Linked DNA regions of Homo sapiens. The protein of the gene in region 2 purifies or fractionates together with the protein of the main gene of each other region. This does not show direct contact. Each region holds a gene or a part of one and is shown on either strand. Other genes may lie near its edges. The genes, in order: DCBLD2 and ATP8A1.

Evidence for each region.
Region 1: the proteins of ATP8A1 (region 2) and DCBLD2 fractionate together in Homo sapiens (co-fractionation; one large-scale study listed by BioGRID). This does not show direct contact.

Annotation. Positions count from the first base shown.
Region 1 is NC_000003.12:98,807,403-98,811,231, forward strand, and holds part of DCBLD2 (discoidin, CUB and LCCL domain-containing protein 2 precursor), read right to left. Parts: coding exon 3,792-3,829; intron 773-3,791; coding exon 679-772; intron 1-678.
Region 2 is NC_000004.12:42,646,797-42,650,625, forward strand, and holds part of ATP8A1 (phospholipid-transporting ATPase IA), read right to left. Parts: intron 1-3,829. UniProt on the Homo sapiens protein: Catalytic component of a P4-ATPase flippase complex which catalyzes the hydrolysis of ATP coupled to the transport of aminophospholipids from the outer to the inner leaflet of various membranes and ensures the maintenance of asymmetric distribution of phospholipids.

The DNA.
Region 1 (3,829 bases), on a different chromosome or scaffold from region 2:
AAGGCCTGAGAGAGCGTGTTTATCCCTTCCACCATGAGAGGATCGGGCAAGAAGGCACTGTTGATGAATGAGCCAGACGGCAGGCCCTCACTAGTCATAGTATCTGCAGTGTTTTGATCTTGGACTTCTCAGCCTCCAGAACTGTGAGAAATCAATTCTATTATTTATGTCACCCAGGTTATGGTATTTTCTTACAGCATCCCAAACAAAGACATCTACCTTCCTCTATCTAGCCAACTACAATTCCTTTAAGGCAAAGCAAGCCAAACTTGAGGAGTCCCCTTTCCCGAAGAAAAAACTTCAGTTAATTCTCATGGTTCATAACTCATCAAACCACATGATATAGTTCCTTGTTAGTCAACCCTGCTAAACACTTCAGAGAAAGGAATTGTGTCTCATTCTTTAAGTAAATGTAACTATCATGTGTCAGAAATTGTTCATATTAATGTACATATCCCAGTGTATAATGCAGAACTTGATACAAAAAAGGTACTTAGTAACTGATTGTGGAATTGAACTTATTTATTTTTAATGGGAATAAAGGAGAAGCATGAAATTTTCATTTTAATAATTACCTTAACTCTCACTCTCAAACAGGTAAACATTTTCATCTTCTATATTTAGCTTCTACTTCACATTTGGTAGTTTTGGACTCAGGTGAACTAGTTATGTACTAACCTGTTTCTCCAGTGCCAAGCACACACTAATATGAGAATGAGAGTAGTGAGGACCATGACCAGCACAGGGACAAGAACTGCAGCCAGCGCTACATCTGAAGTTACAAAGACAAAAACAGACAAACAAAAGCCATATTAACACCAAAGGCAGAAATCACTAGGGAAAATTAACCACATCATCTTTCAACATTTTTCTACCTCACGGAAATACCATAAACATTATTTGTCAAGACTGGGCATGTGGTGGTAACTGTAGAAGCTTTTGCAGATACACAAAAGCTTGTTACACTATTCATTCCATCTGTGTAGAGATGTGAAATTTTCCTAAATTTTTAAATCACTAAAATAAAATTGAAAGACAAATGAAAAATTGGGAAAATATATTTTCTACATATGAGAAGAGTTACTTTAAATAATTATTATATTGTAGGGCATTACAAGCCAAATCCAAACATTTAAGAGAAAAATCAGCAGAGATTAACTAGTAATACATTAAAAAATACAAGTAACCATTAAATATGTTAACTTCACTAGTAATCAAAGAAATACAAGTTAAACAACCAACACAAAAAAAGTTAAAACAACAAAATACTACTTTTGCTAATCAAAGTGGCAAATATTTAAAACAACAACTAATTGATGAACAGGCTACCAGGAAACAGTTATTTTTTAATGGAAATATAAACTGATGCTATCTCACTGATTGGCATTTTTGGGCAATATGTACAAAAATCTATTGGCAATTCCATTCCTAGAATTTATTCTCAGAAACTAAAAAAAGATGCATCCTTAAAGATGTTCTCCCTGTTTCTGCGTAAGAGTGAAAAATTGGAAATAATCCAAATGCCCAAAAATGAGAGGGAATAAATCATGGTATCCTCCTTACAAGAGAAAATAATCCAGCAATTGAAATGACGTTACATCATAATGGCAAAACATTCATATATATATATATGGGAAGGTAACAATGTGGTGTTAAGAAAGTCAATTGGAAATGTGTGTGTGACCAGGTCAGAAGCCAGCATAATGCTGGAACTGGGAGAGATTTAGGGATCATTTAATCCCCTAATTTCACTCCAGAGATAAGGAATTCTGGGCCCAGATATAGAAAATGATCTGCCTAAGGTCACTTGGGATATTAGTTTCTTCCTTTGTCGCTCAACCCCCTACTTGCCATGAAGATGATAATAGCAGCACCTGCTGATATTTACTGGGGGCTCAGAGCCGGACACTGCAATGAGTCTAACCTGCACCATCTTCTTTATTCCTTAAAACAACTGTATCCAAAAGAGAGAAAGAGGCTGAAGATACAGGAGGGGGAGAGGATAATCAGTAAGATTGGGTCCCTGAGAGGTAGATCGAGGGGAACCAGGGCACAGGTGATATAATCAGCCTTGGGCAACATAAGGAAGCCCCCTTTTCACTGCAGTGAACAGAGGATACAGATAGGTTTGTAGGCTCCACAAAAAGGGAGTTTCACTGGAAGGAAACTCCCTACTTTCTCTGTGAAGTTGGAGCGGTAACTGAGAGTGGGTGAAGATATCTGGGTGAAGGGCTTGAAAATAAGGGGAATATGTAAAATAGCTACAGTTGAGAACAGACAGAAGAGCTACTGCAGCCTTTCAGAAGGTCAGCCAGCTGGTGCCACGGGCCCCACTGAGGGAGGACCTGGAAACTACAGAGGCACAAATCTGACCATGACATAATCTTTTCCATGAAATCACTCTCAGCCTGGCTGTAAAAATGGAGAAGTCCATAAACAGAAATAATGACTTAGACTAGAAAGCACTCAGAATTCACAACGGTAAATGTGCTTTTTCCATAAGATTAGTGAGACAAGAGAAGATAATCAAGTTTAGATGGATGCTGTGTGATTTAATCAGAGGCTTTAAAACATCTTCTTAGGTTCAAAAAATAAATTTATATACTACCATCCCCCTAAAAAAGAGACAGGAGGTCTCTGAGAAGACCAACTCATTCTTTGTTATTCTTTTTGGGCATACAGGGATCCTAATTCTGGAAGGAAATTATTTAAGGACTCTTTTTAGCCTTGAGGGTCTGAGATGCAATCAGATTTTAAGATGAGCAACACTTTTCAGTGACTGATCTCCATCCAGGCATGTGGTCTGGGATTCTGCCTTAGTACATGCCTTCTGACAACTGGTAAGCAGTTAAAAGATGCTGAGATCTCCTGCCTCTGAGAACCCTTGATTCTCTCTAGCTGTACCTGCAGCATGAGAAAGTAATTCATCTTTGTGAAAATACTTCAGAAGATGGGAAAGAACCAACATGGGGAAAGTCAGAGAAAGTTATCTGAATCCAGGCAAACTTTCAAAAAATGAGAATGACTGAAGTTCTATGTGGCACAAATTACTTTGGATGAACGGCTTTCTCTCTCTGCACTTTCCTGAAAACAAGGAAGCTTTTTATGTGACAACTCTGATACTTAGTCTACTATGACACTGACACTTTTTTGAATTCAATTGAAATTTTGTTTTTCAACAACTAGTAAGACTACTATGTTTTATGTATTTTGAGACCTTATTTATCACTGATAACAAAACTTGAAAGTAAATTCTAATAAATTTCTATTTATGATCTTAAAAAATATAATTGCAAACACTTAAAAAGAGACCAAAGTTTTTTTTTATGAATATGTTAACTATGAGTATTTTTTAACAATTACTAGTTTCTACTAAAAGTTCTGTTTTTATTTTCCCCTTTTTGCCATCAAGTTCCCTATCCATCAAATTAATATATTATCAAGGGAAACAAGTTTGTTTCCTGCTATGATTTCAGTTATTTCTAGAAAATATTGTATTTCTAAGCCTGAGAGTCAACATGTTTAGCTGTAAGGAACAATAAATCACAAGAGGAGGCCTGCAACACAGTGGCCTTCTCTAAATATTTAAAGAGCAATTCTACATGGCAGCAGAGACTACAACTTAGATCAATGCAGTCTTTTCCTATGAAAGAAAATAAATTTTTTTTTTTGCTATACTTAAAAACTATAGTTGGAAGAAAATAAACTGAAGGTTTAAAAATGCCCGTGAAAACTTCAGTTAAGAACAAAACAATACTATGTACTAGGCGTTCATTTCCATGTTTGCATACCTTTGGTTACATTTGGAGTTACGGTAGTATTTCTGATA
Region 2 (3,829 bases):
AATAATGAACAGAGGCTCAATTTAAAACAGACACCTCTCTTTGCCAAGTCAATTAGAGGTCTAATTAATCCATGAAGCCAAGTTCTATACAGTTGTCCCTTTAGCACAAGTGATGGTGATATTGTACATAAAAGAATACTACTTAAGAGTTTTATCTACTTCACATCTCATGCTAACATTTAAATAAAAATGAATAGGAAGACATGGCAGGGTGTTTTATTTATCAAATATATTTTATAAGAGATTAAAAAATTGGAAACAAAACAGGCTACAAAAGATGCCACAATGTACTTACATAAAACCTCTAAACTGCCAAGTCAAAGGCAGTATTATCTAAGCACCCATATAATGTGTGAAGTTTTATACACACGTGACTGCCTTCTGTTGTTAAGAAGGGAGCTGAAGACTTAAACCTCAAGATCTACATATGTATTTCTAACAAGCTTACTTTGAGCTATGGGTTTCCATCACAAAATTTTATATTCTGAAAAATTCTAGTAAATCCTAACAAGTAAGCATATGCTAGAGGTATAATTTACAACTATGCTGTTCAATACAGTGGCCACTAGTCACATGTAGCTACTGAGCACATGAAATAGTACAAATTGAGATGCACTATAAAATGCCCACCAGATTTAGAAAACGTAGCACAAAAAATGTAAACTACCACTCATAAATTTTTATAACAAAATATTGAAATAATATTTTGGATATATTGGGCCAAAGACAATTTATATTTATAATACATATTAGTATTTATATATTAAATACACTATTACTTGTATTATTTAATATTAAATATATAGTATTAAAATTCATTTAACATCTCTTTTTACATTTTAAATGTAGCTGCTTGATTGTGGCTCACGTTTTATTTCTTTTAGTGCTGATCTGAGATATAAATGCTGATTTGTAAGTAGATTCCATGGAACCATTAGCTAAATCTAGTTGGTCTAAATTTGACCTTATTCCTAGCAAAAAGGAGAAAAAAGAGTAATATCTCAGCTATCATGTCAGGGCCACTACATGAAATAATAAAAGTGGTAAGTTGGAAGCAGAGTCCACAATACATCAGCAGATAGAAATGAACCATTCTTGCTCAAAAAGTAGTAAAACCAACAGATACCTGGTCAAATCTTATTAATTTAAAACCTCATTTAAAAATACTTTGCTTTAAGACATACAATATAATTTTAAAACCTACAGAGACAAAAATTAACTGAAAAACTGAAATGAATTCAGACTGATACCAATATCAAAGTAGCAATAATTGAAGAGGGAAACTAAGCATACATGACTCAATATAAGAAAGATGCCAATTCTCTTAATATAAATTTATAAACAATGCAATTCCAATAAATATTCCAACATGTTTTTTAACTTGATTCAATGATGTACTCATAAATTCTAGTAGAAAAATACAACTGTGGGGGAAAGAAAACCCAGAAAAACCTAGAGAAAAGAGCAAAGCAAATGGGACAGCTAAGAGAATATTTTTTGTTATGTTGCAATAAAGGAATTTGATACCAGGGGCTAAAAGGGACCAAAATAAAGAGAGGTGGCGGCGGGTGGGGTGGGGGGAAGGGAAAGAGAGACTGACTCCAGAAAAAAACTCAAATATATACATACGGAAGCACCTCAAATCAGTGTGGGAAGAAAGGATTATTAAATATATGGTTATTATGTCAGGTAAATAATTTGAGGAAAAACTTAGATCCAGGCCTCACATTTCACCACAAAGTAAATCACACAGGAATTACTAATATAACTGTTTAAAATGAAACCCAAAAGTACTAAAAGAAAAATATAATTGAAAAATTATCTTGAAAAATATGACATTAAAGCAGAAATTTAAAAAAAGGAAAGATTATACTTCATAAAAATTAATTTACATACATGTTAAAGCACTACAAAGTTAAGATAAACTATGAATAAGGAAAAAAGGTATTATCGTTAACATATAAGTTCTTAAACTTCAATACAAAACTTGATAAACAATTCAGAAAAAAATAATCACTACATTTACCAAAATATGTTAAACCTAATAAAGCAATGTAAACTTAAAGACTTACTTTTTACATTCTATATCCATAAGGAGGAAGAAAAATGCTATACAGTGCTGCAAAAGGGATAAACAGGCACTCTCATTCACTTTCAGTGGGAGTGTAAACCAGTATAATCTTTCTAGCAATTTTCAAATATGTATCAAAAGTCATAAAAAGATATATACTTTTGACCCAGAAATCCCATTTCTAGGGACTTTGAACAAAACCATCAGAAAGGTGTACAAAAAGATACAAAGATGCTTATTCAAGAGTTTAAAAAACTGAAATGACCTAAATGTCCACCCACAGGGTTCTTTAGTAAGTTATTCTGTACTAACATAAAAATGCTAAGCTGTCATAAAATTAATAAAATTGATCTGTTCATTCAACAAAAATTTACTGAGCTGCTACCAAGTGTCAAGCACTATTCCAGGCACTAAGGATATAACTAGTGACAGTAGACAAAATTTACACAAATCTATATTGGCACAGATATCCATAAAATTATTAAAAATAATGCAGATTACCTCATTCTTCCTAACAAATATATCTTTTCTGGAAAATAGTTGGGAAGGACATATACTAAAATTCTAACATTGTAAATATATAAATTTATATGAAGTATATAAAAGTTTATAATCACAATGTGATTATATTTGGATGGCATAGTTTGTGATGAATTTTACTCTCTCCTGCAAGACTTTCTGAAGCATGAGTTTTTCCCAGTAAGCAGGCAGTACTTCTATCAAGACTCATAGTTAAGCTCTTCCATTAAAAACAAAGCTCAGAGTTATCCATTCATTCAACAAATATAGAGTGGTGGCTATGTGGCAGACAAAACTCTAGGTGTAGAGGGTACAGCAGCGAACAAATCTCACAAAAACGCTCCTTTGGGGTGCTAAGGTTTCAGTAGGAGGGTACTAGATTTAGTACATCTAGATTTAGCTCTGAGTATTTTACAAATTGGATTATAAGGCATTTTCATCTTTAGGACATAGATTCATTCATTTAACCAATGCCTACTATGTGCCAGGCAATGTCCTCATGGGGAGCAATATATCAGTGGACAAACCAGACAAAACCCCCTGCCCTTAGGGAGCTTACTACCCGGAGAATACAATCATTGGAAGGTTTGGGCTCCTTTCGCTAAGAAGTAAAGAATGAAGGGGAAAGTGGTGGCCTTCATGTCATTGACATTCCAATGAAACCATGTGAATAGAGACCCACGCAGCAAACATTTCGTTAACTTCAAAAGTGTCCTCTGACCTTTGCAAACATTCCCACAGCTGTAACATTAGGTATATGCTTCAATTCTGTTTTTGAAATGACAGAAAAAACAAACCATGAATTCTGCACTGAAGATAGAAAACCTAAAATAATCAGATCTAATACACTTATATCTCCAGAATTACACTAAGTAAAATGACACCTACTTTGAGATTTTCAAATATTGATGACATGCTGTATCGCTATACTCATACACACCTTCTCACACAGTGCCACTTCAGGTAAAACTGAACTCATCTCCATACTCATCTCCATGTTTCCTTTGGGACCTCCTTCATCGACCACAGCCTTTTGTCCCACCACCCATTTAGCTGGCACACAGCTGGTGCATAATAAGTGGTTTTTAAAGGAACAAAAACCTTAGTCATCTTTTACCTGGAATAGCGTCCTAAAATTTTTCCTTTAAGGACAGCTTAAATTACTTTTTATTCCTTTTGTTACCTTTTATGTAAATAAAACATACTATTCTACATAGTTACAAACATTTTAGAGTTGCC